Linked DNA regions of Homo sapiens. The protein of the gene in region 2 interacts with the protein of the main gene of each other region in a pairwise test. Each region holds a gene or a part of one and is shown on either strand. Other genes may lie near its edges.

Evidence for each region.
Region 1: the proteins of RNASE1 (region 2) and TRIM7 interact in binary tests that used the Homo sapiens proteins (3 or more experiments, as listed by UniProt).

What each region holds. Positions count from the first base shown.
Region 1 is NC_000005.10:181,187,456-181,203,329, reverse strand, and holds the end of TRIM7 (E3 ubiquitin-protein ligase TRIM7), read left to right. Parts: exon of another isoform or gene 1-742; intron 743-2,313; exon of another isoform or gene 2,314-3,176; coding exon of another isoform or gene 3,177-3,248; coding exon 3,249-3,479; intron 3,480-4,212; coding exon 4,213-4,235; intron 4,236-4,524; coding exon 4,525-4,640; intron 4,641-5,111; coding exon 5,112-5,147; intron 5,148-6,448; exon of another isoform or gene 6,449-7,652; coding exon 7,653-8,164; 3' UTR 8,165-9,406; downstream 9,407-15,874. UniProt on the Homo sapiens protein: E3 ubiquitin-protein ligase that have both tumor-promoting and tumor-suppressing activities and functions in several biological processes including innate immunity, regulation of ferroptosis as well as cell proliferation and migration.
Region 2 is NC_000014.9:20,795,775-20,811,680, forward strand, and holds RNASE1 (ribonuclease pancreatic precursor), read right to left. Parts: upstream 7,071-15,906; 5' UTR 7,023-7,070; intron 6,591-7,022; exon of another isoform or gene 6,475-6,590; intron 6,320-6,474; 5' UTR 6,295-6,319; coding exon 5,824-6,294; 3' UTR 5,454-5,823; downstream 1-5,453. UniProt on the Homo sapiens protein: Endonuclease that catalyzes the cleavage of RNA on the 3' side of pyrimidine nucleotides. Acts on single-stranded and double-stranded RNA.

The DNA.
Region 1 (15,874 bases), on a different chromosome or scaffold from region 2:
AAACAACTGGCTTAAACTGGAGCTGTCCCAGCGAATCAGGACGCTCAGTCACTCTGATATTACGTAACATACCAGTTAGGGCCTGCGGAAGCATCTTGTAATGGAACACATTACTATTTCTGCAGAGAAACATGGATATTCAATAAGTGGGAATATTAATACAATAAAGAGCCTCATGGCATGTTTTGTCAACAAAACAGTAGTGAAAAAAATTTCATGTTCACAGTGTTTTTATTTGAAATCGAGGCTAACGGAGAAGGGGCTAGAGGGCGTCAGAGCTGCTCCCTGGCTCTGGCAGAGGGAGGAAGTTTAGGGTCTTGGGTTTACAGTAGCCCCTGCTGCACAGCCCAGGGTCTTGGGTACTGGCACCTGCCTCTACCCCAAGTTGGAATGATATTTTATCTTCCTTAGGGTAGAACAGGAAAGTGAAACGAGGGCTCATTTTGGTTAAGATAAGCAAACATGAGGCCTGGCAGGGTGGCTCACGCCTGTAATCCCAGCACTTTGGGAGGCCGAGGTGGGCGGATCACGAGGTCAGGAGATCAAGACCGTCCTGGCAAACACGGTGAAACCCCTGTCTCTACTAAAAATACAAAATAGCCGGGCGTGGTGGCGGGCGCCTGTAGTCCCAGCTACTCCGGAGGCTGAGGCAGGAGAATGGTGTGAACCCGGGAGGCAGAGCTTGCAGTGAGCCGAGATCGCGCCACTGCACTCCAGCCTGGGAGACAGAGCGAGACTCCACCTTAAAAAAAAAAAAAAAGATAAGCAAACATGAATCACCATCGGTCATTTTCTACCTTGCAAATTCAGTTCCTAGCTCAGTAAATAGGTGTTGAAAGAATAAAAGGATTGGCTGGGTGCGGTGGCTTACGCCCGTAATCCCAGCACTTTGGGAGGTCGAGGTGGGCGGATCACCTGAGGTTGGGAATTCCAGACCAGCCTGACCAACATGGAGCAACCCCATCTCTACTTAAAATACAAAATTAGCCTGCCGTGGTGGCACATGCCTGTAATCCCAGCTACTCGGGAGGCTGAGGCAGGAGAATCACTTGAACCCGGGAGGTAGAGGTTGCGGTCAGCCAAGATCATGCCACTGCACTCCAGCCTGGGCAACGAGAGTGAAACTCCATCTCAAAAAAAAAAAAAAAAAAGAATGAAAGGATCTACTAGGACCTGTCAAGGCAGGGAATTGAAGGAAGGTGAACTAGAGGACCCTCCCATCCTCAATGTCAGGAGGGGTGGAGGAGGAGCCTGGAGTTCAGACACCCTAGGGTCCTTTCCAGACCCTCAACTATATCTGTTATGCCTGCACCCAGTGTGCATCCCAGACCTTCCTACCTCATCACTCACTTTCCTCCATGAGGAAGAGCTCACCCTCTAGACCTTCATCCCTCCTCCACTGGAGAAATGACTCCCAATGCAGCTCTTCCCCCACTGGTTGACATCCAGGAACCAGAGGGCCTTCCCTGGCACCGGCGGCAGCTTCACAGTCTCTGACCGGAGTCCCCAGGCCTTGCTTAACACCTTCCACCTCTGTCCTCTCCCAACATCCATCCATCCACCCCCACATTCGTTTTTGTTGTTGTTTTGTTTTGCTTTGCTTTTAGACAGAGTCTCACTTTGTCACAAAGGCTGGAGTCGTTCAAGCGATCCCCCCACTTCAGCCTCCTGAGTAGCTGGGACTACAGGTGTGCACTACTACACCCGGCTAATTTTTAATTTATTTTTTGTAGAGCTGGGGTTGGGGGTAGTCTCCTGTGTTGCCCAGGCTGGTCTGGAACTCGTGGGCTCAAGCAACCTTCTCCCCTGACTTTGCCCCCCTCAGCCTCCCAAAGTGCTGAGATGACAGGTGTGAGCTCTACCTGTTCTTTGCAGCAATAAAATACTTCTGGATTTATGACACTTGTCTCATTTACAATACCCTGCTTAATGAAACATCAGAGGTAGAGCCCAACTATTGCTGCAACACAAAAGGGAGAAGGAATGCTCTTATTTGAAAATGCTCCTACCCCAGGGGACATCTGGCAAAGTCTGGAGATACTATATTTTTGGTTGTCAACAATGGGATAGGGATGCTATTGGCATTTCGTGGTAGAGGCCAGAGGGGCGGCTAAATGTCCTACAAGGCACAGGGCAGCCCCCTACAACCAAGAAGTATCTGGCCCAAAATGTCAACTGTGTTAAGGTTGGGAAACCCTGGCTTAGAGTATTTTGGCAAATACTGTTTCACTTGTGCTACCTCCTTGTGAGGCAACTGGCCGAGAAGCCTGGCTTAACACTTCCTGGTGATGTGTCTGTCTTTTGTCTCCTCACCTGTAAGACTTGAAGGGAAGTGCACCCTCCCCACTGGGCTGCCGTCAGGGTTGAGGGAGTTAATATCCATAAGGCGCTCCAGGCTACTGCAGCCTGCCTGGAAGCTGAAGGAAAGGTGGGGGCATTGTAGGACACCTTGAACCCAGGTCTCCCAACTTCACAGGACTCCCTTCCTCCGCCCAGGAGTTTTAAGGAAGAGGAACTTCCTGGTGGGACATATTGAGTGCCAAACGTGTGTTCACATAAAAAATCAAGAGATCAGGGCATGAGTCTGCATCTGAAAACTCGAGTAAAAAATCCGGTGTATGCTGTTAATGGAAAGAACAGAATATGACACTTGCATGCCGCATATTCTCACTTCGTTCCTTGGGGGTGTGCTGCTACCTCTGGTCACTGGCATCGGACTTTTCTTCCTTCTTTCTACTTTCCTACATCTCCCAAGTTTTGTATTTTGAGCATGTGTTAGCATTATAACTGCTAAACAGGAAAGATGGCCTTTAAAAAGAAAGTGAAGTGTAAAAGTTTGAGGGTGATGAAATAAATGTGCTTGAGGAAGAAAAAGCAATCTCAGTTTAATCCTATGGTTGCCCCAGGAGGCACTAATTTATCCCTTCTGCTTTTCAAGTGAGGAAGCTGCAGCTTGGCGTAGTTCTGGGGGGAGTATGAAGCTGCCTTGGTTTAGGTGATGGAGCACAGGTCCACAGACATGTGTGGGTGCATCTGTGGCAGGGGAGAAAAGAGCATGTGTCCAGACTACAGCTTGTTCAGAGCTGGGACACTGACAATAGAGCACGCACTGCGTGCGTAGGTGGGTGTGTCTCCGATCCTCCAGCAGTGACAGGGACGAAGCCTTGCCCTGTGGGATGACTCAGGCCACTGGCCAAATGTTATGTCTCCATGTTCAAGTCCCTCTCCAACTTCTCCTCCTGGGACAGAAACAGATGGCAGCGGAGCAGGAGAAGGTGGGGGCAGAGTTCCAGGCACTGAGGGCTTTCCTGGTGGAGCAGGAGGGTCGGCTGCTAGGCCGCCTGGAGGAACTGTCCCGGGAGGTGGCACAGAAGCAGAATGAGAACCTGGCCCAGCTCGGGGTTGAGATCACCCAGCTGTCCAAGCTCAGCAGCCAGATCCAGGAGACAGCTCAAAAGCCTGACCTTGACTTTCTCCAGGTAAGTCTGGCTCAGCCAGGGGCTCGAGTCATTTATCCTAAGGCATCAGGACCAGCAGCTAGAGAACAGTGTCAGTCCTGGGGGGTCTAGGAGAATCACATGATCTGGAGCTGAAGGGGACTGGAGAGAAGTGCCCTGATTTTCCTGGGGTTGGAGGTCTAGAGAGATGTGAAAACTTTCTTGACTATGAGCCACAATAATATATATCGTATTTCAGAATCACAAGCTTGAGACAAAAGTCTCAGAAAATAATACTCACCTTTGCTACACGTATGCACTTTGATGTTTTCTATTCTATTTCGCTAAAAAAAAAGTTATAAACAACTAGATAAACTTCACAATCCATAGATGGGTTAAGAACAGTCATTATGGGGCTGAGTGAGCAGTAGGTGCATAAGGGCTGTGACCTCCCTCAGGTGGTTTCCAGGACACACGCAGCACTGGGTCCCATGGGATAGCTCCAGTGATGATTCTGTAACTAAGAAAGCAGCAAAGATAGAAAGAAAGCACGTGAAGAGTTGTGGCAAAGGGTGAGAGGTCCACTGCGTGGGTGAGACACCCTGCAGCCAGCAGCCACTGGAAGCTGCTGCCCCTGAGGCCCACGCAGGCAGTGAGGCGTGGCACACTTGCTTATGCTTACATCTGGGAGGCACAGCAAGGGGCAAGCTTTGTTTCTCAGAGGTGAATGGAGGTTACCTGATGCTGATTTGGTTTCCTCTATCTTTCCTTCCAGGAATTCAAAAGCACGCTGAGCAGGTGAGTGACCTCACAGCTCCTGGGGCCTCTCTAAGTTGCTTCTTCCCTTTTCACTGAGCCTTGTCTTTATTCCCTGTCCCCTGACCTCTCACCTCCTGATCCCCCGACTTGCTTGCCTGGGGACCTTCCGAGACAAACGCCCACCTGCCTGGCCATGGGTTTTTCTGCATGAGGTCTGGCTCTCCCTTTTCTACCTCTTTCTGCCAAGAGGACCTCGCCATCCTAATTGTCACAGCCTGTGGGAGCAAAATGGTGCACACAGGCCCTTCTCAGAGCCCTTGTCCTGCAGGTGTAGCAATGTGCCTGGCCCCAAGCCAACCACAGTCTCTTCTGAGATGAAGAATAAAGTCTGGAATGTTTCTCTCAAGACCTTTGTCTTAAAAGGGATGCTGAAGAAGTTCAAAGGTAGGGGCCTGGGCGCCAAGCTGGGCCACATAGTGCGGTGGTGGTGGAGGGTTCCTGGTAGCTCAGGGGTCCCTGGGTGTGCTTTCCAGAAGCTGTGTGTGAAAATAGGAGCTGGCTGTGCCATGGCCAGATTGGTGTAGGGGCTGTGGTGGCAAATCTAGTCAGGCCCCCGCAGGGCATGCCGCTTCTCATGGGCACAGATGGGGTAGAGGGGTACTGCTGGGGGACTGGGGTTAGGAAGAGAGCTGTGCAGGGGAGCTCAGCTCAGAGCCACTTGGGTAGAGCTAGAATGCTTGGGTATGGGCCCCCTGCCCCCCGCTCCCCATGCTTGGCCCTGTGCCTGCACGTTCACTCTTGGCCTTAGGAGTCTCTGGGGAATGAATGAGTCAGTTGGGATATAAAGAGCTGGTGACCTTGCCATATAATCTCCCGTGTCGCTCATGCACGCCTTGCTTTGTTTCTCCTCCTCAGAGGACCTTCGGGGAGAGCTGGAGAAAGAGGAGAAAGGTAGGGATGGTGCTGTGATGGCGAGTATGGACTGTCTGCCACACAGAGATCCTACTCCCTGCTCGTGACCATCTCAGGGTTTTGCATATGGTCGGTTCCTTCAGCCCACCCACCTCAGCAACCCTGTTCCTCTGTCCCCTCCCCCACACCACCCCCTCCCCATCCTGGGAGCTCTGACACCCTCAGATGTTGGCCCAAATGCTGCAGGTTGGTTAGGAGCAGGAATGCCCTGTACCTCGAGATACTCAGACTGGGAAAGGCTTCTCGGCCACCTGGGTGAGCCTCTACCCGGTCCCCACTCCAAGATGGATGGAAACCTCTCCTGGGAATGGGGTGTATACAGGGGACCAGGAAAGCAAGGGGAAGCTAAAGACTGGAAGGAATATCGTTTTTACTCTTGCAAAGCTCTGGAATGTGTGGCATCCAACACCCAGAGGAGGGGAGGGGAGGGCACATATTCCTGATGCTGATGTCTGAGCTAAGTCAGAGTGTGTCTGGGTGCCACCTAAAACACCTGAGTGAGACCAGGCCCTCCTCTGCTCAGAGCCCTGCCACAGCCCCTCTGACTTGGTAAAGGTCAGAGTCCCCATGGAGGTCTCAAGGGCCCACGGGCTCTAGCCTCACTGCACACCCCTTCTACTCCACGCAGCTACACATCCTCCCTGCTGTTCCTTCAGTGTACCAAGCACACACCCATCCCGGGGCCTTTGCACTGCCAGGCTCCCCCACCCCAGGCCCCTACCTGGAGCATGCTTTCCCCAGCCAGTCCTGTGGCCTGCTTCTTTGCCTTCTTTATATCTGTCTGCTCGATGCCCCTTTTCAGTGAGGGTCTTCCCTGGCCACTCTGGTTGAAGTTACAGCCTGCTCTTCTGGTCCCTCTCATCTTCTGTTTATAATCTATCCTCAATCCTCTCCCTGTGGGAAGGAAGCTGCAGGCAGGCAGGACTACTCTGATACTCTGTGGTACCCCCAGGGCCTCAATCGTAGTAGTGCTCACAGTAAGTGTACATATTTTAACTTTTTTTTTTTTTTTTGGAGACAAGGTATCGCTTTGTTGCCCAGGGTGGAGTGCAGTGGAACTGCAGCCTCCACCCCGCAAGCTCAAGCGATCCTCTCTCCTGGGCGTCCTCGAGTAGCTGGGACTACAGGAGCACACTACCATGCCTGGCTAAATTTTCTATGTTTTGTGGAGACGGATGTCTCGCTATATTGCCCAGGCTGGTCTCCAACACCTGGGCTCAAGCTGTCTTCCCACCTCTGCTTCCCAAAGTGCTAGGATTACAAGCATGAGCCTCTACACCTGGCCTTAACTTTTTATTATGAAAAATTTCAAACATACTCAAAAGTAGAGAGAAGAGTGTAAAGAATGTTACATACCCATCTCTCACCGTCCGCAGTGATCAATTAGTGGCCACAGTTTTCATAGACACTGCTATCCACTTCCTGTGGGATTATTTTGTTTTCTGAGACAGGGTCTTACTCTGGAGTGAGATCATGGAGTACAGTGGCCTGATCTCTGCTCACTGCAACCTCTGCCTCCTGGGTTCAAGCGATTCTCATGCCTCAGCCTCCCAAACAGCTGGAATTACAGGCACAGGACACCATGCCGGGCTAATTTTTGTATTTTTAGTAGAGAAAATACAAAACAAGTTTTCCGCCATGTTGCCCAAGCTGGTCCCAAACTTCTGACCTCATGTGACCCATTGGCCTTGGCCTCCCAAAGTGCTGGTATCGCAGCTGTGCACCATCTCACCCGGCCTCCACTGTATTATTGTTATTATTATTTTTATTTTTGAGACAGAGTCTTGCTCTGTCGCCCAGGCTGGAGTGCAGTGGCGTGATCTCAGCTCACTGCAATCTCCACCTCCCGGGTTCATGCCATTCTCCTGCCTCAGCCTCCCGAGTAGCTGGGACTACAGGCGCCCGCCACCACGCCCGGCTAATTTATTTTATTTTTTTATTTTTAGTAGAGACGGGGTTTCACCATGTTAGCCAGGATGTTCTTGATTTCCCGACCTCGTGATCCACACACCTTGGCCTCCCAAAGTGCTGGAATTACTGGCGTGAGCCACTGCGCCTGGCCTACTGTATTATTTTAAAGCATCAGAGACAACATATCATTGCCATAAATACCTCAGTGTGTTATCTCTAAAGAAACAGACTTTGTAAAACATAACCACAAAGCAGTCCTCACACCTGGACAGATTAATGATTCTTTCCAATGTCTAGCATTCAAATATCCCCATCTGTTGAATTGGGGTTCAAACCAGGCCCACACATTGCATTTGTTTGATTTCAGTAAGTACTTGTTGAGTGGTCGGGGCGGGGGGAAGCAAAATCTCTGGGAGGCAGAGCGTGGGGGTTGGTTGGGCCTTGGCGCTGGGTGCTGGGGGGATTCTAGAGGGAAAGGCAGGCAGGTTGCAAAGCAAGGTCGGGCGCGGCCCTGCAAAGACTGTGCCAGGGGCCTGGCTGCGTGGGGACATTTCTCCCTGTCTCTGTCTGCAGTGGAGCTCACCTTGGATCCCGACACGGCCAACCCGCGCCTCATCCTCTCTCTGGATCTTAAGGGCGTGCGCCTCGGCGAGCGGGCCCAGGACCTGCCCAACCACCCCTGCCGCTTCGACACCAACACCCGCGTCCTGGCGTCCTGCGGCTTCTCCTCGGGCCGGCATCACTGGGAGGTGGAGGTGGGCTCTAAGGACGGCTGGGCCTTTGGCGTGGCCCGCGAGAGCGTGCGCCGAAAGGGCCTGACGCCCTTCACTCCCGAGGAGGGCGTCTGGGCCCTGCAGCTCAACGGCGGCCAGTACTGGGCCGTGACCAGCCCCGAGCGGTCGCCCCTCAGCTGCGGGCACCTGTCGCGCGTGCGGGTGGCCCTGGACCTGGAGGTGGGAGCCGTGTCCTTCTACGCTGTGGAGGACATGCGCCACCTCTACACCTTCCGCGTCAACTTCCAGGAGCGCGTGTTCCCGCTTTTCTCTGTTTGCTCCACGGGCACCTACTTGCGAATCTGGCCTTGAGGGGCACTGCTGGGGAGCTCCTGTCTCTGGGCTGCCGGTGGGAGGGGATGTCGCCTCCCCAGAGATGCCTGGTCCGTCTTGGGTCTGCCCTCCGTGCTCCTGACCCCTGCTGCCCAAGAGAGCCTGCTACAGACACAACCCCGAGGCAGGAGAGTGACTGTGGCCAACCGAGCAGGGGAACAGGGGCTTTGGACTCCTGAGGGTGTTCCCTTCCTGAGGTCACATGTGGATTTGGCCAGAGCCTTCAGGAGGTGGAGGCCGGTGAGGTCAGGAGCCCAGCTCTCCAGGGGGCTTCTGCCCTGACTGGGAAGGGTGCCTGGCTCCCTAAAACAATGTCAAAGCCAGTCCTGCTGTTCTCTGTTGCCAGGGGGCAGGTCTGGGCCTGGGCCAACCACGTTTGTTATCATGGCTGCTGCCTTCTGGACAGCTGCCAGCTCTGCCTTGAGAGGTTGTGGGACCTCTGGATCCAGCTGACCTGACAGGTCATCTACTCAGGGAGGAGCCCTGTGCTCCCAGCTCAGAGGACAGTCTGGGCCAGAACTGGAAGGAGACATCTGTCCCGTCTTTGAGTGACAAGCCCGGGACAACAGCCAGTGGGCATCACGGCTCTCCAGCACTCCTTAGCCGGAGGATACAGAGTGATGGGTGCATCCTGACCAATGCGACAACCAACACGTGCTCTCACAAACCCCTGACTCCCGCACTTTCCAGTGCCAAAGTACAAACGCTGCTTGGATAAGGAGAGCAAAGCTTCTGGAACTTTATTTACTCTTTCTTTTTAATTTTCTTTTAAGAGACTGGGTCTTGCTATGTTGCCCAGGCTGGTCTTGAACTCCTGGCCTCAAGTGATCCTCCAGTTTCCATCTCCCTAAGAGCTGGGATTACAGGTGTGAGCCGCTGTACCCGAACTTTTTTTGTTTTTGCTTCTGGAACTTTGAAACACAAAACACAAGTTGGCACTTACAATTTTAAAGATGCAGCCAGCTCTAAACAACACACAGAGCACAAATATGCTCCTGACGGACTCAGGAAAATGCCAACAGCAGAGCACCCTGGTGCCAAGGCCTTCTCAGCCCATGCCCTGGAGGGCATTCCCCTGGCCAGCCTCAGCCCCTTGTCTACTTGTTCTCCAGCTTCTGGGTAGCTGGGCTTCTGGAAGGGTGGCAGTGGGCTACTCCCTGCTCAGCGCTCCCCTGGGAAGGGGGTGAGGAGATGAAAATGAAACTATGAGCTGTCTTTGGAGTTGGCTTGGCCCATTTTCTACTCCCTAGATCTGAGTGCAGGAGCGTAAGTGTGATCAGGGTTTCTGCCAGAGTGAATGAGCATGCATGTTTCTGTGTGGGAGGAGTGTGTATTTGTATCTCACCTTTCTTGGGGGTGTGTGTGTGTATTTTGGAGAGGGCATTTATGAGCATGTGCATAAGGTTCAGGTGTTGCAAACAGACCCAAGTCAGTCTGGTCATACCCTATTGTTGATTTGTTGTTAAATACTGACCACCTCATATTTAGACAAGGGCCACAGGTTTCTTCTCTCACTACCTGGCTACCAGGCTAGATGAACAGAATACCAGACTCGGACCTAATTCTGTCCCACACAAGTTATTTAGACAGAGGTGCTGGCAAACAGGGGCAATGATAGCTGAATAGCCCTGTGTCATGGAGCTTCAGTGCTCTGTCTCTGAGGTGCTTCAAGCTCACCTGGCATATAGGGTTCTCGTGGGGCAGCCACAACACTATCCCAGAGGCAGGCCCAGTTGACACAGCACCAGACAATCAGAATACCGCATCCTCCAGGCTGAGGACAGGGTCATTTCAAAGTCCTGCCTACAGAAGCATTCCAGAGAGTGAATCCTATGTCCTGCTCATACATGGAGAGCAGCTCTAAAACCGGGTAGCCAATTCAGGCATTTGAATACCACTGATTTCCACAAGGAAAACCGATCTCTAACATTAATTTCCTAACTGAATCACCTATTGTTACCGTTAAGCCTTAATGTTATCTGGCTTGTATGGCTTTTTGATTAAGTATCATAATTCCCTTTGTACCATCCAACAAATGTGCTGGGCATCACAACACACATTACAGGTCCCAGAAAGTACCATGTCTGGTGAAGGTGTCACATGAGGGTCAGGTCTGGGGACTGGGAGTAGCTGTCCGCATGTTTATTTTCCGTTTTTGTGTCCATGAGTGCAATCGTGTGTCTATCAGAGTGTGTGTGTTTGCAGAGTGACTACATATATAGCTATGTATCTTAAGAAATGTAACAACAGTTACTGTAACAATTGCATAGAGAAGGGAACAGATGTTCTTTCTTGCTAACCAGGGCAGTACAGTAACTTGGATGTCAGGATGCTGGTGTCCTCGAGGGCATGTGTGTGCATTTCCCTCTCCTAGACTCTGGGCATCATAAACTCTAGGGACCTCTGGGTCTGTGAGAACAACTGGCCTAACTTGGGCCCTTCTTATTCAACCCATCAGTCCTAGCTGCTGACCCATAAGCGCAGGCCTCTGCCGCCAGACCCTCACAGGGACCCTCAGCATCCAGAATGGGGGGCACCTAGAGGCCCACCTCTGGCCTGGCCGCCCAGTGACCCAAGTCACCCGGCATTGCAGGGAGCACAGGGCAGGCTAGGCCACCAGACCAAGGTCCACCTCCTACACCCACCACTTTCTGTCCTTTGCCAGGCTGAGCCCTCATCCTTTTCCCCTCTCCTCCGGCCCGTGGGCCCTTTAAGGGCCCTGACAGAACATGTCAGGGTGTACCCTAAAAGCTGCCTTTTCCTACTTCATCCAAATGTGAGACGGGGCTGGCACCCACCCGCAACCTCGCCTGGACCCTTCCCACCCCAGCGCCTCCAAACACCTGGCCCTCCTGATTCCCCGCCTCCCCCGCCACACTCCCGCTGGGCCTCCACCTCCTGATGACCCCACTGTTCCCCCACCGCCCAGCTCGCCCCAGGTCCCGCCCTAACCTCTCGGATCTGGACTCCCTGCAGGACGGGCGCACTGACACCCTTCCCTGACCTTTCCATAGCCTTGACCTGGATCCCCGCTTCCTCACGCACAGCAAGACGCAAAACGTGCTCCCCAATCCTGCGCACGCCCTTCCCTGGCCCCCGCCCCGCCCAAGGCCCGGGGCGGTCCTCACAGCTCGGAGCTCGGCGGTGCCGCCCCGCCCCGACAGCTCCCGCCCGCGCGCGCGCCCAACGACGGCACTGTCTTCGCGGAGCCCTCTGCCGGGACTAACGGCCGTTCCGTGCCACGGACGCACGGGCAAGATGGCTGCGGCCGTGGGAGGAGCTTGGGTCCAGCAGCCACAGAACTCGGCCGAGGGTTCAGCGGACTGCGGCTGCGCGGCGCCGGCGACAGCGTCAACTGCTTTTGTGTCAAAAGGAAACCAACAGCCGGCTCCATAGCTCAGGGGTTAGAGCACTGGTCTTGTAAACCAGGGTCGCGAGTTCAAATCTCGCTGGGGCCTGCTTCCGTCTTTTCCTATTCTTTCCTTAAAGATAGAAAAGTGGAAGATAGGCAAGCCTACTTCCGCCTTCCTGGGAGGCCAGAGCCTGGCGGAGTCACTTTCTTTTTGCCTCTAAGATACCCACCGCGCAAGGCTACTTTCCTACCACTTCCTTATCTCTTGAAGAGTCAGACCCACTGCGGGCTTCCTTTTCCATCACGGGTTCCCTGGGCCCCGCGCGCCCTCTCCCCACGACCCCGCTCACTTCCTTCTGCGCGCTCCCCGGGAGCGTCTTTCCGCTTCTCTCCGGTCTTCCCACTCCAGCTAGGGACTCGCCCTCGTGTCTCCTTCCCTCTCTCCAGGGGGAGACGATGGCACTACCGCGCCCCTTCCCGCCATGCGTTTGTTTGCGGCGTTCCCCGACGCGCGCGCTGAGGCTCTGGTCTGCGGCTCTGCGCTTGGCGGCTGCGCGCCCTCGGCCTTCGGGTCCCCGCCGCCTCCGTGCTGCAAGGTCTGATTTCTTCCTGTGGAGTTAACACGGAAAAGCGCAGACGGCCACATTCATGACCCGGGAGTAACGGCTCTACCTGTCACATTCGCTTTCAGCCTAAAACAAAATTTTAGTTTATTTTAGACAAAATATATAACTAAGGTATGCTGGCCTTCTGACTGATTTATTCTTGCTGTTAACGGAAGTGTAGAAAGTGAGCCCAAGTCCTCAGTGAACAGTGGGGGCGCTGCCCAGGTGCAGGACTGGCCCCCTGGGGGTCTCGGGACGGCTCCCGCCTCCGTCTTCCCCGCACCGCGCACTTTGGAGGCCTGGGCACAGGTGGAGGCGGCGCTGGGTCCCGCCGTACACTCCCCTGTCGCAGGCGCCCTCTCTCCAGCCGGAGGGAACCTCAAAAAAGCTCTGAGCGAGTCCCCGTCCCAGGTGGGGCCGCGGCTTATACCGGGACCACTCCAGGGTAGCTCAAGGTTCGAAAACGGAATCCCTGTCCGGTGAACCAGAGAAGAGAAAATCGCTCGGGGCCACCTGGGTAGAGACCGGAGGGGTGACTGCCTTGACTGGGAGGCGTGGAGGAGCGAGCGGGGTCTGCGGCTCCGGCCGGGAGGTATGCGCTTCCCTCTCTCACCCATGCCTGCTCCGGTCCAAAGAGCCGAGACCGTGGGTCAAGACCGGGATGGATTCGCTCGGGAGAGGCCAGGAGCCTGCCAGCACGTTCGGGCACTAGCGCTCCCGGGGCTCCTCGGACTCGTGGACCCCGAAACGCCTGCCCCACAGGAAGATCACCCCACTGTAGAAGTCGGGTCACGGGGACCAGTGGCGAGCTACCTGACGGCTTAACTACAGATACCCTCCCGACGAAAGCCGTGGACTCCCAGGGTGCGTGCGTCTGCTTGTGTGTGGGGGTGTTGGCAGGCGGTCCCCATAATCATCGAAGAGACAGGTGGATGAACCTCAGGCCTCGCACTCGGGGGCTCTCAGAGTCTGGGCGTTACAGCCGCTCCCGTACACTCACGGGTCACCTGGCTGAATCAGGTGGGATCTGGGTGAGGTGCCGGGAGGTCTCCCAGGCTGGCGCTCCTGTCCAGCTGCTGGGGGAGGCGTGGGTGCGAGGCTTGGGACAAGGGAGAGCTATGCCGGGTGGGGAGGACCCTTGGGGCGGGTCCGTTCACCTGAAATGTTCACTGCTGGAAGAGCCGAAAGCCAGCCACGGCACCCAGGGGAGTCCAGCGTGGAGAGGCAGAGAGGAGGGGCGAGGACAGTGGCGGTCGCAGACGGCGGAGCAAGATCGCCGAGCGTGCGAATGGAAAAATGAGCATTGTTTCCTCGGAGTAGCTTAACCACCATCCCACGCTGTTTTACAGCAGTGTAGGAAATGTCTCTGCTGGTGACACAAAAATAAACCTGTGCATCAGCTCTGAGTAGATTATCGCGAATTTTACAGCAGGAAACCGCATCACTATTTTTACTACTAAATAAACCAGTGCAATTAAAGTGCGCAGGGCGAGAGTAGGTCTGAGGCGAGAAAAGAGGAGCGCGCCCGCCCAGCTCGAGCCTCAGGCTTGCCCTGTGCTGGAGGCGGCCCGGGGGCAATCCCGGGAGAATGCTGCGAGGGCTGTGAGCCAGGACCCCGACTCTGCACCGCGGGAGCGCGCGCGCGTGGGTCCCAGCCTCCGAGCTGTGCAACAACCCCGTGGCTAGAGTCTCCACGAGAAGACAGAGTTCCTGGTCATCGGTCGTTTCCGCCTTACACTTTCCTACATTTCCTGAAGATTTTGCAAATGGGTATGCACTGTTTATTATCTTTTCATAAAACGGTAAGAGCGGCTTCTGGGGGCTCCTCACCCAGCCGGTCCGGCGTTCCTTCCCTCTCAGCACTGCGCTCTCTCCCGAGCCCTCCGGCTCTACCAACCTCTGTGTCCTGCCCCTGGGCCTCAAGATTTGCGCCTTTCTTGGACTCGCTTGGGAAGGGGCGCCCAGGCTGCAGAACGGATGGACGCTCCTGCCTGCTACTCGAGTGGATCGAGCAGGGAGGCGCTCATTCGGATTCCAGGAGACCAGAGGACACAGGACATAGGGAGCGTTTACCCTGTGTGGAGCTACCTGCGGCTGAGAATTAGTGGCAGACGCGGAGATGGGCAGCGGGGACAAGTTGGGCTTGGGAGACTATAAGACCTTGAGAATGGGTTCAAGCTGCCAGACGGAAATCCGCCTTTTCGGTGAATCGAGCCATGAAGAACACAATCATGAAAAGATTCAGCGAGCAACTAGACAGCCGGCTCGTTGGTCTAGGGGTATGATTCTCGCTTTGGGTGCGAGAGGTCCCGGGTTCAAATCCCGGACGAGCCCACTTTTTCATTTTTTTTTTTCCATTTCAACTGAAGTTCTTCTTGTTCAAATCCTGGATGAGCCAGCTTTTTAAATTTCAACTAAATTTTGTGTTACCTTGACAGTTTTGATCCCGAAAGATGTCCAGCGGAGGCATCACCAAGATTTCCGGGAGTGCTGGGGATTGGAAAGAATCGTGGATAGGAGACTAAGCGAGCCGTCCCGGAAGCAACAGTTGCTGTGAAGACTTTGGGCACAGACCTGCACGTGAGAGTATGCTCTTGAGGGTTGTGGGGGCTCTCCTTTTACAGCTAGGGATCACTTGTCGAACGTACCCGGAGAGTAGCTGCTAGCAGACAATATTATGGCGACAGAGGTAGGTGTGGGTTTCCGTAGTGTAGTGGTCATCACGTTCGCCTAACACGCGAAAGGTCCCCGGTTCGAAACCGGGCGGAAACATGCCACAGTGTTTTTTTTTTTTTTCCCCCCCCTTTCTTTTGAGATGGGGTTTCGCTCTTGTTGCCCAGGCTGGAGTGCAATGGAGTGATCTCGGCTCACAGCAACCTCCGCCTCCCAGGTTCAAGCCATTCTCCTGCCTCAGGCTCCGGAGTAGCTGGGATTACAGGCATGCGCCACCACGCCCGGCTAATTTTGTATTTTTAGTAGAGACGGAGTTTCTCCATGTTGGTCAGGCTGGTCTCGAACTCCGGACCTCAGGTGATCCGCCCACCTCGGCCTCCCAAAGCGCTGGGATTACAGGCGTGAGCCACCGCGCGCGGCCCCGAAGCGGTTATTATCTCATTACACGCTCTTATTACACTGGAGACTAACCTAGAAGATCCCACTAGTATGTCCACCTGGTGGTCACAGCGGCACAAAGAGAAGAGGGCATCTACGCTTTTGCTTTCCATTCCCAACCACCCGCACCTGTGAACTCAATCCAGTTTTACTTGCTGTGGACAAGCTCGGCACAGAGCTCATCCACTGGACAGCGGCACGCTGCCAAATGGAACCCCGCATCTCGAGTATGTGTGGGGCCCATTACTCCTTTTGTAACCCATAGGGGACAAAAGTGACAAAACTACCACAAACTGGCAGCGGTGGGATTCGAACCCACGCCCCCGAAGAGACTGGAGCCTTAATCCAGCGCCTTAGACCGCTCGGCCACGCTACCTCTTTGCCGCTGGGTATTTACATATTTTCCTTCAGTTATGAAGCGTGCGAAGGGGCTCTGGGCCAACAGGGAGTTGGGGCGAATCCACAGGGCAGGACCATGGCAGGATCCGCTCCGCCAAAGCCACTGGCTGGGAAACGGCTCCACCAGTGCCCTGACACAGGATTCTCAATGCCCAGGCCTCAGGATCTGCTTTAGGAAGGCCAGTCATAAAGCCACCCTCTTTGGGGAATGCACTCCAGAGC
Region 2 (15,906 bases):
TATATATACGCACGTGTATATATACTCACGTGTGTATATATATACACGTGTGTATATATACACACACATATATAATATAATATATATAATATAATATATATAATTTATATATGTGTGTGTATATATATACACACACATATACACACATACACACATACATACATATATGTGTATATATATAATATATATATACATATATATATAGTGGCAATGGCGCAATCTCAGCTCACTGCAACCTCTGCCTCCTGGGTTCAAGCAATTCTCCTGCCTCAGCCTCCCAAGTAACTGAGATTACAGGCATGTGCCACCACGCCCAGCTAATTTTTGTATTTTTAATAAAGACGGGGTTTTGCCATGTTGGTCAGGCTGGTCTCAAGCTCCTGACCTCAGGTGATCCACCTGCCTCGGCCTCCCAAAGTGCTGGGATTACAGGTGTGAGCCACCATACCCAGCCTGTATCTTAGTTTTAACAAAAAAGTTTAAAAATTTTTTTAAATAGAAAAAAAAAACAGATAAGCCTGAGCAACATGGTGAGACCCTGTCTCTACAAAATATACAAAACTTAGCTGGCATGGTGACACATGCCTGTAGTTCCAGCTACTCAGGAGGCTGAGGTGGGGAGGCAGAGGTTGCCGTGAGCCAAGATTGTGCCACTGCTCTCCAGCCTGGGCAAGAGAGCGAGATCCTGTCTCAAAAAAAAAAAAAAGAAGAAGAAGAAAAAAGCTATAGAATAAGGATACAAAGAAAACATTTTTGTACAGCTGTATAATGTGTTTTAAGCTACGTGTTATTATAAAAGAGTCAAAATTTTTTTTATTTAAAAATGTATAAAGTTTAAAAGTTAAAGTAAGCTAAGGTTAATTTATTATTGAAGAAAGAAAATTTTTTCATAAGTTCAGTGTGCCCTAATGATACAGTGTTTATAAAGTCTACAGTAGTGCACAGCAATGTCCTAGGCCTGCACAATCACTCACCACTCACCCACTGACTCACCCAGAGCAACTTTTAATTTTTTTTTTTTTTTTTGAGACCGAATCTTGCTCTGTCACCCAGGCTGGAGTGCAGTGGCACGATCTCGGCTCACTGCAACCTCTGCCTCCCAGGTTCAAGTGATTCTCCTGCCCCAGCCTCCTGAGTAGCTGGGATTACAGGCACATGCCACCATGCCTGGCTAATTTTTGTATTTTTAGTAGAGACGGGGTTTTGCCATGTTGTCCAGGCTGGTTTCGAACTCCTGACCTCATGATCCACCCGCCTCGGCCTCCCAAAGTGCTGGGATTACAGGCGTGAGCCACTGCACCTGGCCGTAGCTTCTAATTCTATAAGCTCCACACATAAGTGTCTTACAGAGGTGTACCATTTCTTACCTTTTATACCATATTTTTACTGTAACTTATCTATGTTTATGTACACAAATATTTACCATTGTGTTACAATTGCCTATAGTATTCAGTACAGTAAACTGCTGAACAGGTTTGTAACCTAGGAGCAATAGGTTATACCATATAGCCTAGATGTAGAGCAAGCTATACTGCCTAGTTTTAGGTAATATAGTCTGTAAGGTTCCCAACAATGATGAAGTCACTCAATGACACATTGTATCCCCATCATTCAGCAACACATGACTGTACTTGGTGTATACACTGGTTTTATACTCACTCTTTTGAGAGTCGGTTCTTGAAATCAAGTTTAGGCCTTTCTACTGTCTCTGCCTGATCTTCTGTGCTTTCTAGATCTCTGGTTATCCCCTCTCTTGGGATGATAGAATTCATACTCCTGTGAGTTCCAGTACTAATGTTCCTGGCCCCTCTTTCATCTGAGGCCCTCAAACAAACAAAAATCATATGTTGGCACCTTGAATTATAAATACAGAAAACTGTAGTGAGACATTGTCAATTCTGTCCCCAGTCTTGATTGGTTGCATGCAAGTGATAGAATAGGATGTATGATTCTTGATTCTAAGAGTAATAGCTTTTATTATGGACAGACATTGTCCTAAATATTTTTTATATGTGACCTCAACTAATCCTCAACAAATCTCTGAAGTTGATACCATGTTTATCATGATATTTTACATAGGGAACCTGATGTTAAAAAAGTTACGTTCCCTGCCTGCGGCCACACTACTCCCAAAAGGCACAGTGGAGTGTGAAACAGGTCTGTTTCACTCCAGAGCCAAGGCTCTGAAACACCATACCCCATGCCTCGGTGATAGTGGCTAACTTTCTGAGTGTCCACAGAACGCTGAACACTACGCTTTCTCTGAATGTCATCTTTACCACAGTACTTCTAATTAAGTGTTATGAATATTTCCATTTTACAGAAGTCCCACAGGCACTTGGAGTTGTTATCCTGTCTCAGGTTTTTAAAATCCAGGCTAGACCCATAAAAAATAAGCCAATCTTTGTAACTACTGCACTCCTTCCAACCTCCATTCATTCACTCCTTCTTTCACAAATGCTAGAAAAATGTTCCTTTGACTTAAGAATGTGTATGTCCAGACATTCCCTGGATTTTAAAAGGGCAGATTTTTTTTTTGGTAGAATAGTATATCCGTCTCTCTATGTTCATTAATAGTGCATTGGGAATTTCTGAATTGAACCATATTCCAAGAGTAACTGAGAACATGAACACTCATGAACCGAGAACATGAACTGAGAACATGAAAGCTCAGCTGATGGCAGGGGAGAAGTTGCAGAGGAAGCGTGAGGGCTGTTGCACACTAACTAGCTGGAGGTACACAACTGACCAAGCATGCACGAAGGCTGCCTCGCTTCACATCTTGCCAAGGGCTTTCATGCCCCTACTTTTTCTTTTCCCCTTACAGCAGCCTCAGAAGGGACGCAGGGCCAGTTCCCTAAGACCTGTTAACGGTTTCTAAAGTCCCTCCACTCCATCCAGCTGTCCCAGGAAGAAGTAGATGTTCATTTGTCCCCACAGACACTTCTATTCACCCCACAGCCACCCCATCCCCACCACCGTGGCATCTAATTTAGACCAGCCCGCCATAGGGATGTGTCAGGGCAGCTACGGATGCAATCCAAGAGAAGTGGAAGAATTGGTTAAAGGGTGTATTCATTTCCTAGGGCTGCCATAACAAAATGGGCGGCTCAAACGATAGAAATGCATTTATTTATTTATTTATTTTTTAAAATTTTGAGACAGGGTCTCATTGTTGCCCAGGCTGGAGCGCAGCCTCGACCCCCAAGGCTCAAGTGATCCTCCATCTCAGCCTCCCGAGTAGCTGGGACTATAGGTGTTTGCAACCTTGCCTGGCTAATTTTTTAATATTTTTTTGTAGAGACGGGGGTCTCACTATGTTGCCCAGGCTGCTCTTGAACTCCTGAGCTCAAGCAATCCTCCTGCCTCAGCCTCCCAAAGTGCTGGGGTTACAGGCGTGAGGCAGCATGCCCAGCCAGAAATTCATTTTCTCACTGGAGGCCAGAAGTTCAAGAACACGGTATGGCAGGTTTGGTTTCTCCTGCTTCCTCCTTCCTTGTTCTGCAGTGAGCAGGTCTATGCCAATGTACCCCCAAGGGCTGAGGGAGATGAGAGGCCAAAGAAAGGGCTTGACTGAAGTAGGAAACTAAGAAAATAACAAATAATAGCATACGTAATAATAATAAGAGAAATAACAATAGCTCATAGAATGAATTGCTGTATTAACCAAGGCTGAAAAGAATTTAAGTAGCCCCCCTGAAGTTAAAGTTAGAAGAGAATATTAACTGTCTGTCCCAAGAAACGTTAACCATATCTATCCTCCACATATTTTGTAGGCTCTGTAAACTCCTGTTTCTTTCTTCCCTGCACAGCTGCAAGGTCACAAGACAGATAAGCATAAGCTGCAAACCAAGTTCTCACAGAGATGTAAGACATGTTCCAAAAGTGTCACAGCGGCCTTTTGTTCTCACTTCTGTAAGCCTGCTTCACTTAGTTCCTGCCTCAAAATGCTTAAAAGGGACTCATTTTCTTTGTTCTTGGGCTCAGCCTTTTAGGACACAAGTCCGCTGGGCCAGTGTACACCTTAAAATAAACACCCTCCTGCACGCCATCTGGTCTCTCTGGTTCCTTAAATCCCACTTCATGACAAGTTCAGTTTCTCAGAAAGAAACATTTAATAGGGACTTACAAATAGAAGCCATGTCTCAGGCAGCCACAAGACAGTGGATCTCCGCACAGGCCCTGCAGAAAGTATTCTTTATATGGCAAGCTTCCCCACCCCCCACCCTGTGAGATGGAATCTTGCTCTGTCACTCAGGCTGGAATGCAGTGGCGCGATGTCGGCTCACTGCAACCTCTGCCTCCCAGGTTAAGTGTTGACAGATGCCAAAGGTAGTCTTTCAGTGGCTGTCAGGAAGGGTTGCCAAGAGTGGAGTGGACTCACAGGCTAAGAACACTGGGAGCCTGTGAGAGCCCACCAGCAAGCTCTGGGAGAGAGCTACCGCTCCACAGCACTTACTGAGGAGGGGAGCTTTCTTCCTGAGTTAGAGCAATGGCTTCCTGAGTTAGAACAATGGCTTGGAAGTCAGGAAACCTAGGGTGTAGTCCCGGCTGTGCCACTAACTAGCAACAAGCCATGTGCAAGTCACCGGAAAGGCAGGGGTCACATTTGGTCAGGGATGGCAAATGTGTGGCACACACACCCTTCCCCCTCTCGTGCCTTCGATAGAGGCTGTTGTTCAACCACACCACTGTCCAGAATTTTTTGCTACAGCATTTTGGGTAGGCACTTCCTTTTTTTTTTTTTTGAAACAGAGTTTCACTCTTATTGCCCAGGCTGGAGTGAAGTGGCACCATCTCAGCTCACTGCAACCTCCGCCTCCCAGGTTCAAGTGATTCTCCTGCCTCAGCCTCCCTAGTAGCTGGATTACAGGCACCTGCCACCACGCCCCACTACTTTTTGTATTTTTAGTAGAGAGGGGGTTTCACCATACTGGTCAGGCTGGTCTTGAACTCCTGACCTCAGGTGATCCACCTGCCTCAACCTCCCAAAGTGCTGGAATTATAGGTGTGAGCCACCACGCCCGACCGGCACTTCCAATTAGAGTTGGTACACAAACTGAAATCTACTTGCTATCCCTCAATTCCGTGCTCTCCAAAGTCACTTCTGGCTCTAAAATGTAAGGTTCTGGCTTTCCAACTAAGAGGTGCCCATTTTTCTGATTTAGTAATAGCTCACTCAAAAAAAAAAAAGGAAAATGGAAATTTAGGATCATAATTTCATTGAGTCCTCTTCCCCACCCTGAGGCTAAGCAGGATCTTCCTGAGGTCACACTTGCCTTCCTTCTGTGCCAGAGAATGATTGTATTTGAGCTTCACCCCTCTGTCAGTTCACCCTGCATGGCAGTGTCCCAGGCTGTAGCTCCCTTTTGTCTAAAACAGCCCACACTTAACAGTTTTATGTTTGGCATCAGGGAATCTACAAGGAAAGGAATTTTCTCAAGCCACTAAAATCCAAGTCAGAAGGGAAGGCATTTAATTACTCCATTCACCGTTCTCCAAAGTGAATCAGATTTACAGTTCTTACCCCTTGCTGGAAGGCAATGCCAGAAACAGTACCTAGACAGAACCGCTTCAGAAATCAGGTGTTTGCAACTGCGTTTTATTGAAAGAAAGAGTGGAGGGGTTAACATGGGGCCCACCTCACAACCCACTCTTCACCCCCAAAATCACGCAGGGATGGGACTCAGGAAAGGGAAGCATGTGTGTGTTGAATAGGAGCCCTAACTGTAGTTACTTCTTTCACAGCAGGGAAGGAAGAGGGAAGAGGCAGCTGTGGAGAGGATGAGGTTGAGGGAGGTGGGGTATCTCGCTGCTCTGACCTTAGGTAGAGTCCTCCACAGAAGCATCAAAGTGGACTGGCACATATGGGCTCCCTTCACAGGCCACAATGATGTGTCTCTCCTTCGGGCTGGTCCGGTATGCACAGTTGGGGTACCTGGAGCCGTTTGTCAGGCGGCAGTCTGTGATGTGCATGCTGGAGTTGCTCTTGTAGCAGTTGCCCTGCCCGTTCTTGCAGGTGACCTTTTCCTGGAAACAGACATTCTGGACATCTACCAGGGGCTCGTGCACAAAGGTGTTCACTGGTTTGCACCGCCCCTGTGTCATATTCCGGCGCCTCATCATTTGGTTACAGTAGGTGGAGCTGCTGCTGGGGGAACTGTCTGAGTCCATATGCTGCCGCTGGAATTTCTTGGCCCGGGATTCCTTGCCCAGGGAAGGCTGGACCCAGCCCAGCACCAGCAGTATCAGGACAAGCAGAAGGAGCCGGACAAGAGACTTCTCCAGAGCCATGGTGGCCTCACTTTCCCAGAAAAGCCTAATTGAGAAAAGGAGAGAGAAGGAAAAGAGCCCTCTTAGAAAAAGAACTCCAGCTCCCACCTATGGCTTGCCTGGTTTACACTTTCTGTTTCAGGTCAGCCAGAAAGACGTCCATCCTACTTCCTGAGGTTTTTCGTGTAATGAGACACTCACGTGTACCCTTTTCCACGAGCGTTTTATTCCCACTCTCCAAAGCGAGGTCTTCCTCCCCTCTAGGTGGTGACCTACAAAGTGACCTAAAATCCTGTCAGTTCCTATCTTTGAATACTGGAGTTTCTTTGATCCAAAATACATTTGTACCCAGTGCTCAAATGGCTCATCGAAACATCAGTTTGAATAAATCATGAACCAAATTGTATCCCCGACATCCAGGGCCATGGGTGACAGAGCCTTGTTGTCTTGGAGCATAAGGGAACTCAGGCCAGTGCCTGACACTGGCATCATAAAAGATTCCATTGTATTCCAGAGAGAAACGCTGGCCTCCCCCAATTTGGAGGCTCCTTCTTCTCCAGTCCCATGGATGCTCTGCAGCCTGCACGTTCCACCCTGACCCCTCTGCCCCCAGCTGATGTTTGCCTGGGCCACATTTTTTCAGCGCTAGCATCACCCAATCTTTCTCAGTGCTGTGGACTGGCCCTAGCTCCCTCTTCTGCAACCCTGAAGCAGAAGCGGCACCTGAGAACACCTCTTGGGCTGCTTACCTGGATCTGCAGCTTGGTGTCTGAGAGAGATGGAAGGCCAGTTTCTGCAATCACTCAGCTCCCGGGGTGTGGACCTTATACAGATTACAAAGGGGTTTGGCTTCCAAGAGGAAAAGGGTGGGAGGAGCATCTGGAGCTCAGTTCAAATAAAATCAAGGACGTGAGGAAGGAGTGGTGAATCACCCAGGCCGCCGTCTTTCTAGGGCTGCTGAAGAAAGAGCAAATCTTTGCCTACGTTAGTCTTTCTTCCTATGTGAACCACATCTGTCTGCTGATGCACAAGGAGCAGCAGAGAAAGCCACTACAGCACTGGTGCCCAAACCTGGCACACTAGGAACAAAGTCCTTGTTACTTCTTCGTGGGCGTTTTCACCAAGTAGACTTGGAGGTTAACAAAGGACGCAAAGGAGAGGTTCTAATGGGAGATAGGGAATTCTGGCCAAAGCTATTCCAGGGCTCCTAGGGAGCAAAACCCAAGTCTCTTTCTAGGAGGGCATTCTCCCAACGCTACCTCTCCCGGGGATGGGAGGCGGGGTCGGGGGGAATGGAGGCTGTCCTGCTGCCCCCAGCTGGAAGGCTTCCCAGATCTGGAGAAGAAAGGGGGAGTAACTGAATAGGGAGGAGGAGGAGGCCTCTAGGGTGCGCTCACCCAGTTCTGGCCACTTCCCACCCACCCTCCACCCCTGCTCTGGGGGCATCGAGAGGATGGGGCTGTTCTTATCTACAGTAACCACTGACCCTGTAGGTCGGAATTGAGTAGAGGAACTAAAGATAAACTTAAATCCCAAATCTCAAATTCTTTTTGGGGAAAAAATACAAAGAATATCATATTTATTAGCAGCAGAATGCCCTCCTAGAAAGAGACCTGTTTTTTTGCTGAGTAACAATTTGGATACCTCTAAGAATTATCAAAATATCCCTTCGTGCTGTGTATTCAGATTGTTTCAGCCTTTCTGTGTAAAAAGTGGCCATAGTGAAATTATCTGACCTACCTTGTGTGATTGTAGGTCGTAAGATCCTCATTCCAGAGAGGGTCCTGCCCCCCATACCCAGAAAAAAAGGACGAATGCTCAGAGAGGCCAAGAAGAATCTAGACAGGGAGGCCTTGCTGGGTTTCCCCACTCAGTCTATTTTCATTAGATCGCCCTGTTGTCCAGTCATATTTCTACACAGCTGTTCATACTTTGTTGATATCCAAGTGTAAGAATGCCCACTTTCCCCTGTTATCTTTGGGTCTTCTGAAGGCTCCCGTGTCGTGTAAAACTACGATCAAATCAATTTGTATGCGTTTTTTCCTATCAATCTGTCTTTTGTCAGTTGATTTTCAGCAAACCTTTGGAGGGTGAAAGGGGAATTTTTCCTTGGCCCCTACAGTTTCCTTACTCCCCCAGCCCCCACCTGTATTTTATTTTTCTGAGTCTTTAATAATACTTTTATTCTCTTGAATAGTCAAGTTAGAATGTGTTCATTCATTCATTAGACTGTGGGATACAGACATAAATAAGGCACAGGACTCACCTGAAGGGCGCCTGGTGGGATGGTTTGGTTAGTCAGGTGGACCCCACTAAGGCACTGGGCGTGGCTGCACAAAAGTGGCCTCCACCCAGCAAGATGATTTCAGAACCACAGTTCAGATGTGAACAGATCTTCTGTAACTATAATAAGGCTCTTCAACAGCCCCTGGCCCTAGGAATCCTGAAACTACAGGAAGCCATTTTGTCTATTTATGCATAGCAATCTAGACAAGCCCTTGGAGCTTTAATTGCACTTCAATGGGGAACCATCAGAAGCCCTTACTGCAGCCTTATCCTTGACCCAGTTGCAGAGGCATAGCCCCGCTTGTCTTAGGGCAGTAGATGCCATGGCAACATTTGTTGTTGCTTCTGCTGAACTTGTTCTAGACTCCCTGCTTGACCTCCTGGTTTCTCACGCAGCACAGGCATTACACCTGACTGAGAACTCACTGCACACTTCAGGCAGCCGATTAACCTCTTATAAGATTCTATCCCTCTCTCCCTCTCATAAATTACTACTCATCTCTGCAACACACTGAATTCTGCCACCCTCTGTCCCTACCAGAAGGGGAGCCTCTTGATTGTCTTACCTCAGTAGGAAACATTCTGCATGTCAGTCAGATTTATTAGCAACTCCTATTGAGAACCCGGACCTAATATGATTTATTGATGGAACATACCCCAGAATTGAAACTTGAAGTTAGTACACTGAGGAAAGAAAAATCAATTCTTCCTTTACCCTCCTAGAGGGCTGGGGGCCCTGTAAATTAAAATGACAAAAGACAGATTTAACAGGAGAAAAGGCATAAAAATTTAATTTAATATTAATATTCTACATGAATATGGAAGTCTTCATAAAAAAAGAAGTGAAGACTCAAAGAAGCAATTAAACCTGAGAGTTTATAGGCCATTTTGACAAAGAAAATTGTGCAGAAGTGACAAGACAGTGTTCCATGAAAGGGCCACATATGTGAAGTGGCCCCAAATGCTGAAGGAGCCTAGAAACTAAAGAAAGGCAGACAAATTCAGTTTGTCAGTAAAGCGTGTTTTATTCTATTGGGGAACTTATAGCCAGAAGTGTCGTCTTGGGCAGCAGCAAGACATGTAAATCTCAGCACTGTTATTCCCCAGACCCAGAGCTTATATACCATAGGGAAAAGGGGTACGTGCTATATAGAGACAATGAAAGGCAACTCTTCAGAACAGGCAAGAATGCTGTGTTTGTCATAGCCCATAATTTGCATGATAACGTTAAGGTTGTTTTGATCTAAAGGCAGGATTTATAGTGAATACATGTTTCTACACTAGAGACAGTAAATAAAGTAGAAATCAGGAGGCATTCCCGGGACATGGTTAATCAGACGTCAACATGGTAGATTAGCATTCAAGATGGAGTCACTTTTGTCTCTGCACATAGGAAAGGGATTTTGAGCTTCTGGGGAGGTTGCGACAAGCGGACTAGGAAATGTATAGTATATAAGGGTTGTTTAGTAAAGTTTGTTAAGCAAATTCAAGTTGGTTGTCTTCTCCATTGATAAGTCCTCCGTGATTAAGTCCTCCTCTTCCTGGCACAGGAAAGGGAGACATCCATACAAATGGGAATATAAATGGAAATTTCTCTTACAAAAGGGAAACTTGGCTAGGCATAGTGGCTCACTCCTGTAATCCCAGCCCTGTGGGAGGCCAAGGCAGGCAGATTGCTTGAGTTTAGGAGTTTGAGACCAGCCTGGGCAAGGTGGCGAAACCCTTTTTCTACAAAATATACAAAACTAGCCATGCATGGTGGCATGCTCCTGTAGTCTCAGCTACTCAGGGGGATGAGGTGGAAGAACACTGGAGATGGAGGCTGCAGTGAGTCGTGATTGTACCACTGTACTCCAGCCTGGGTGACAGAGAGAGACACTGTTTAAAAAAAAAAAAAGGACATTTATAGTTCTTTCACAGCAGGGAAGGAAGAGGGGAGAGGCAGCTGTGGAAATGATGAGCCCTGTTTTTTGAGTTTTTCCTGCATTTACTGTTTTTCAAAATAATCAACTCAAAATTATTGAGCTGGCATATTCTGGTTCCCTACATTATTAATAGGCTATGCTACCCCTATTTTAAACTCTTCTTAAGAAAAAGTCTACTACCTGCAGTAAAATCAGCCCAGATAGCAAAATGTATTGCATTTACTAGAATTTGTCACCTAAACAAAGACCAGAGAGCAAACATATATACAGACTGCAGGTATGCTTTTGAAATAGCATATGATTTTGAGATGCTTTGAAAATAGGCATTAGAAGACCAGGCATGGTGGCTCGTACCTGTAATCCCAGCACTTTGGGAGGCTGAGGCGGGTGGATCACCTGAGGTTGGGAGTTCGAGACCAACCTGACCAGCATGGAGAAACCCTGTCTCTATTAAACATACAAAATTAGCCGGGCATGGTGGCACATGCCTGTAATCCCAGCCACTCAGGAAGGCTGAGGCAGGAGAATCGCTTGAACCCAGGAGGCAGAGGTTGCGGTGAGCCGAGATCGTGCCATTGTACTCCAGCCTGGGCAACAAGAGCAAAAACTCCGTCTCAAAAAGAAAAGAAAAGAAAAGAAAATAGGCATTAGAAATGGACAGCAAGTTAAGGAACTTTCAGATGCACCCCCACTTCCTAGAGAAGTGGCTATTATATAGGTAGAGGTCCATATAAAAAGAGACAATATGGAAACTAAAGGAAATTCTCTAGCAGATCATTATGCCAAAGAAGCTACTTTAACCAAGCTTATGACTCTATCTATACCTTTAAAGGATAAATCTCTGGGGGATTCAAAGAGGCCATTATAAAATATTGACATTTAGCCCCTGATTTTGAAAAAGAATGGAAAACATCTAGTTGTACTCTTCACTCAGATAATTCCTGGTGCTGCTTGGTGACACCAGATGATCTCAAGTAGATATTTCTAAAGGAGTTCAAAACATACCACCCCAAAATATGCCTTTCTGGCATATGGATTATTTTGAATTAAAAGCTCTTGAAAAACAGCAGATGCAAGAAGGGCACTCTGATCTTTCTAAAAGCAGGAGACAATGCTCCCACGTAGCAGGGACCCTCCGTGGAAGAAGGAAGACATTCTTATTACCAGAGATGGGGGCAGCTGAGGTTGAGAGAAAACTACAAATAAACCTTGTTAAACTAGCCCTTATCTCCCTAGCCACTTCTCCACGATTAACAGCCCTAGCCCATATCCCTTTGACTTGTTTTCACAATTTACTGTTCTTTGTCTAACTTAGTATATAAGCATCCACTCAGACTGGTTCATTTCCAGAAGGCTTCCATGCCATGTAAAACTTACATTAAATAAATGTGTATGCTTTTCACTTTTTAATCTGCCTTCTGTTACAGAGCCCCGCCTTAGAACTTAAGACAAATAAGAAAGATATTTCCTCCCCTACATTATCTGGATTTCTCCATGAAACACCCATTATGGCATAGACAAATTGGTTACTATCTTAAGTAAACATTGGTAGGAAAACTTTGAAAAGGCAACTGAGCTTACTTTTGGGTCATGTGTCACCTGTCAAAAATATAACTCTGGAAAAACTGTAAAGTTGGGACATGGCCAGAAACCAAAGCCTCTTTGGACACCTTCGGACTGTTACATGGAATAAAACCTTAGACAAGTGTACATTTTAGCTGAGTTTATTTGAGCAAAGAAAAGCAGAACAAAACAAAGCAAACAAAGCAAAAACAAAACAAAAAAAAGCAGTTCAAAAATCAGGCACGATTTGGAACTAGAGGAAATTCAGAGAACTCCAACCAATGACATAATCTGATAGCATTTATAGGAGACAAAAGAAGCATGGTACAGAGGCAGCTTAATTGGTTAATTGGTTACAGAGTCTCCTGCAATTAGTTAAAGCTCAGCTGCAACATATTGTAAGCCTGTAAACAACTAAGCCTAACAGATCAAACAACACACCGTATCTGTTTGATCTGTTAGGCTTAGTGCAGGAGCCCAGTCCAAATCAATGGCCTTGCTTAAATTTTATTTCACAAGACACTTCACCGGCTTTCACTCTCCCTGGGATTTGAATATGTTTTAGATATTGTATGTCTGTTTTCAGGATGAGTTGAAGAATTTCTTTGCCAAAATGCTACAGCCCTTACAGCCGTGAACAAGCTGCTTGATTTTATGTTTTCAATCTGGGGCATCCCACCTTTTATATCAAGTGACTGAGGCACACACTTTAAGGCGACCTTTATAAAAGAACTCTTACTCAAAAACTACACCATCCTTACCACCCACAAAAACGACCCATGGCATCCTTACATTAAAATAAGCAACAATTTCAGAAACCCTTGAGCTCCCTTGACCAAGAGTATATCCACTATCCTTTACGGATATACAGGCCACTTTCTTGGAGACACATAGGTTATCCCCCTATGAGTTGATACCGGGAAGGTCCATGCATTTAGAGATTTCACCTCCAATACTAGAGTCTGTCCTACTCCATGCAGACATGACAAGATACTGCAAGGGACTCATGTATTGTACGTGGTCCTATCACCAACAGGTTAAGGTCCCCTTCCTACAAAATCTTCCTAAACAACCTCTCCATGATCCTCAACTAGTGGATTTGTCTACTGGAAGAAAAATCAGAGAATAACTGCTTTTGAACTTCATTCAAAAGGAAGAGATCTTATCAGATACTGTTAACAATAGATACAGCAGTGAAACTCCAAGGAGCCAACCTTTGGGTTCATGTTTCACAACTGAAGAAGAGATTCAAAATTCCACACAGTTGGAAGGCCACTTCGATTTTGTCTGCACCATTGCCAGTGCTTCTTGTGATACTTAGGTCAAGGACACAGGCAAGGTTAAAAAAAAAAAAGACTATATTGCTTCAAAAAAAAACCTATTAATATTTGGATCTCTAAGGTCCTCATGGCTTATGGGATTTGTTTTCTTGGCCTAGGTTAAGCAATTGGAGTTCCTGGTTCTAAAGCATCTCAGAGGGACTATCAATTGTTTCTTATTTTTCTGATAGTGGTCATGATGCTAGTCTGTTCCGTTTTATCCAGAGTTTTAAATGCTTCTAGCAGCCACTCTGTCATCAGATGATTGCCATAATGATACAATAGAAAGATCAAGAAGATCTTACAATCCAGGTCACTATGAAGATGACTGAACAATTTATGATTGGTGAAGATGTGAAATTCTAACTTTCTCTGAGTTGGTCAACTTCTCAGAAGTCAGAGAATGACCAAAAGGAGGGACTGAAAGACTGACCATACAAATGAACAATGACCAGACCATATATAAAGATGGAACTCTGACCTGTAGTCTCCAGCAATAAGTATGAGAAGCCAACCCACTATATACAGCAAACAATCCAGGAAGCCAAACAACTCCTATAGCAATTGGCCCCAAACAGCTAGGACTTGATTACCCCTATTTTATTTCTTAATTTTTTCCTTGCTTGAAAGTCTCTCTTTATGGACTTGATTAATAACTGAAAAGTTCCCTAATATTTATTTCCGCTTCCCCAAATTAGGACCAATCAGAGAAAGCCAATATGCATCCCTAATCCAACACATAGGATGCCCTGCTTCCAGTAGCCCACTTACAGCTTCTGCATGCCGCAGCCTGCAACCAGAGCATCCCTGAAGCCTTTCCTGTTTTCCATTGTGAAGATTCCCACTCTCCTGCCTACTGTGAGTGTCTGCCAAATGCAAGTGATGGTGGTTACCTGCCATCTGTGGCCAACTCTGAATAAACAGCCTTTGCTTATTCTCATTTGGGTGGCTGTGCTCATTTCCACAAGCTCTTTAGAAGAATAAGGAAGTGGGTATGTACAGGGTAAGGACGTTTTTACAAGAAAAGCTCAGATAATCTGAAGGATGTCCTATCATTAGGCTGGCTACAAAAGCTCAGCACAGCCCCCCAAATACACATGTACGAGCACACACACACCCTGCATGCACGTACATACAATATGCACACACACATACAATAGATGATATTCCGGGATTCCTTTTGAACCCCAGAAAGTGAGAAGGCAAAGGAAAATTAGAACAGGAAAAGACGGAACAGTGGGGGCAGACAAAGGGAGCGGAGTGGTGTTTGAAAGTTGAAGGAAGTGAGGGGAAAGAATGCAAGAACCAGCTAAAAAAGATCCGAAGCCCGTGCTGTCCCACGCCTCTCACCCATTGCCTACAACCCAGATGCCCATGAAGATAAAGTAGGATAACAGCCAAGATGACATCCCTCAACTCATTCCCTTTATTTTTTATTTTTTTATTTTTTATTTTTGAGACAGCTGTTGCCCATCTCAGCTCACTGAAACGTCTGCCTCCCGGGTTCAAGCAATTCTCCTGCCTCAGCCTCCTGAGTAGCTGAGATTACAGGCACCTGCCACCATGCCTGGCTAATTTTTGTGGGGTTTTCTTTTTAGTAGAGATGGGGTTTCGCCATGTTGGCCCAGCTCGTCTTGAACTCCCGACCTCAAGCGATCCGCCCGCCTTGGCCTCCCAAAGTGCTGGGATTACAGGTGTGAGCCATCACACCCAACCAACTCTTCCTCTTTTGTAGGAAGCTCATTTCTGGCCTGCAGAGTCCTCTTCCCTGAATCGTGTGCGCTTAGGCCACTTACTGGCTAATGCTGACCTATGATGGATCAAGGAGCAGAACTGGGCAAGAGGCTACAGTGGAAGTGGCAGAGTCAGAGACCTCCATCTTAAGTTCCCTCCGTCTGGGGACTCTTTCTCTCTTCTGTCTCTCAGTGGCCTCAGACATTAAAGAATTTGGGACAGATACATTTAAGAGTTCATTCTCAGCCATGTCTGAGGAAGTATGTCTGAGTCTGAGGGCGTTTGAAGGTATGTGAGGGGCAGGAATGCAGCTTCAGAAAAGCTGTGCTTCGTCTTCAGTTCTCAGCCTCTCCTTCCTGAGCTCCTTCCCTGTCTGGCTTCTTCCACACATCTATACAGAGACTGTCTGTCTGTCTGTCTTTTATTCTTAAGAATCCAGAATCATTTAGAACCCAGTCAGGGCCAGGCACGGTGGCTCACGCCTGTAATCCCAGCACTTTGGGAGGCTGAGGTGGGCAGATCATGAGGTCAGGAGTTCAAGACCAGCCTGGCCAACATGGTGAAACCCCCGTCTCTACCAAAAATACAAAAATTAGCCAGGCATAGTGGTGCATGCCTGTAATCCCAGCAACTCAGGAGGCTGAGGCAGGAGAATCGCTTGAACTGGGGAGGCAGAAGTTGCAGTGAGCCGAAATCACACCACTACACTCCAGCCTGGGTGACAGAGCGACACTGTCTCAAAAAAAAAAAAAAATGTAGCTCCTATTTAAAAGGACTTCACTCAGTGAGGGTGGATATAGCTGAAT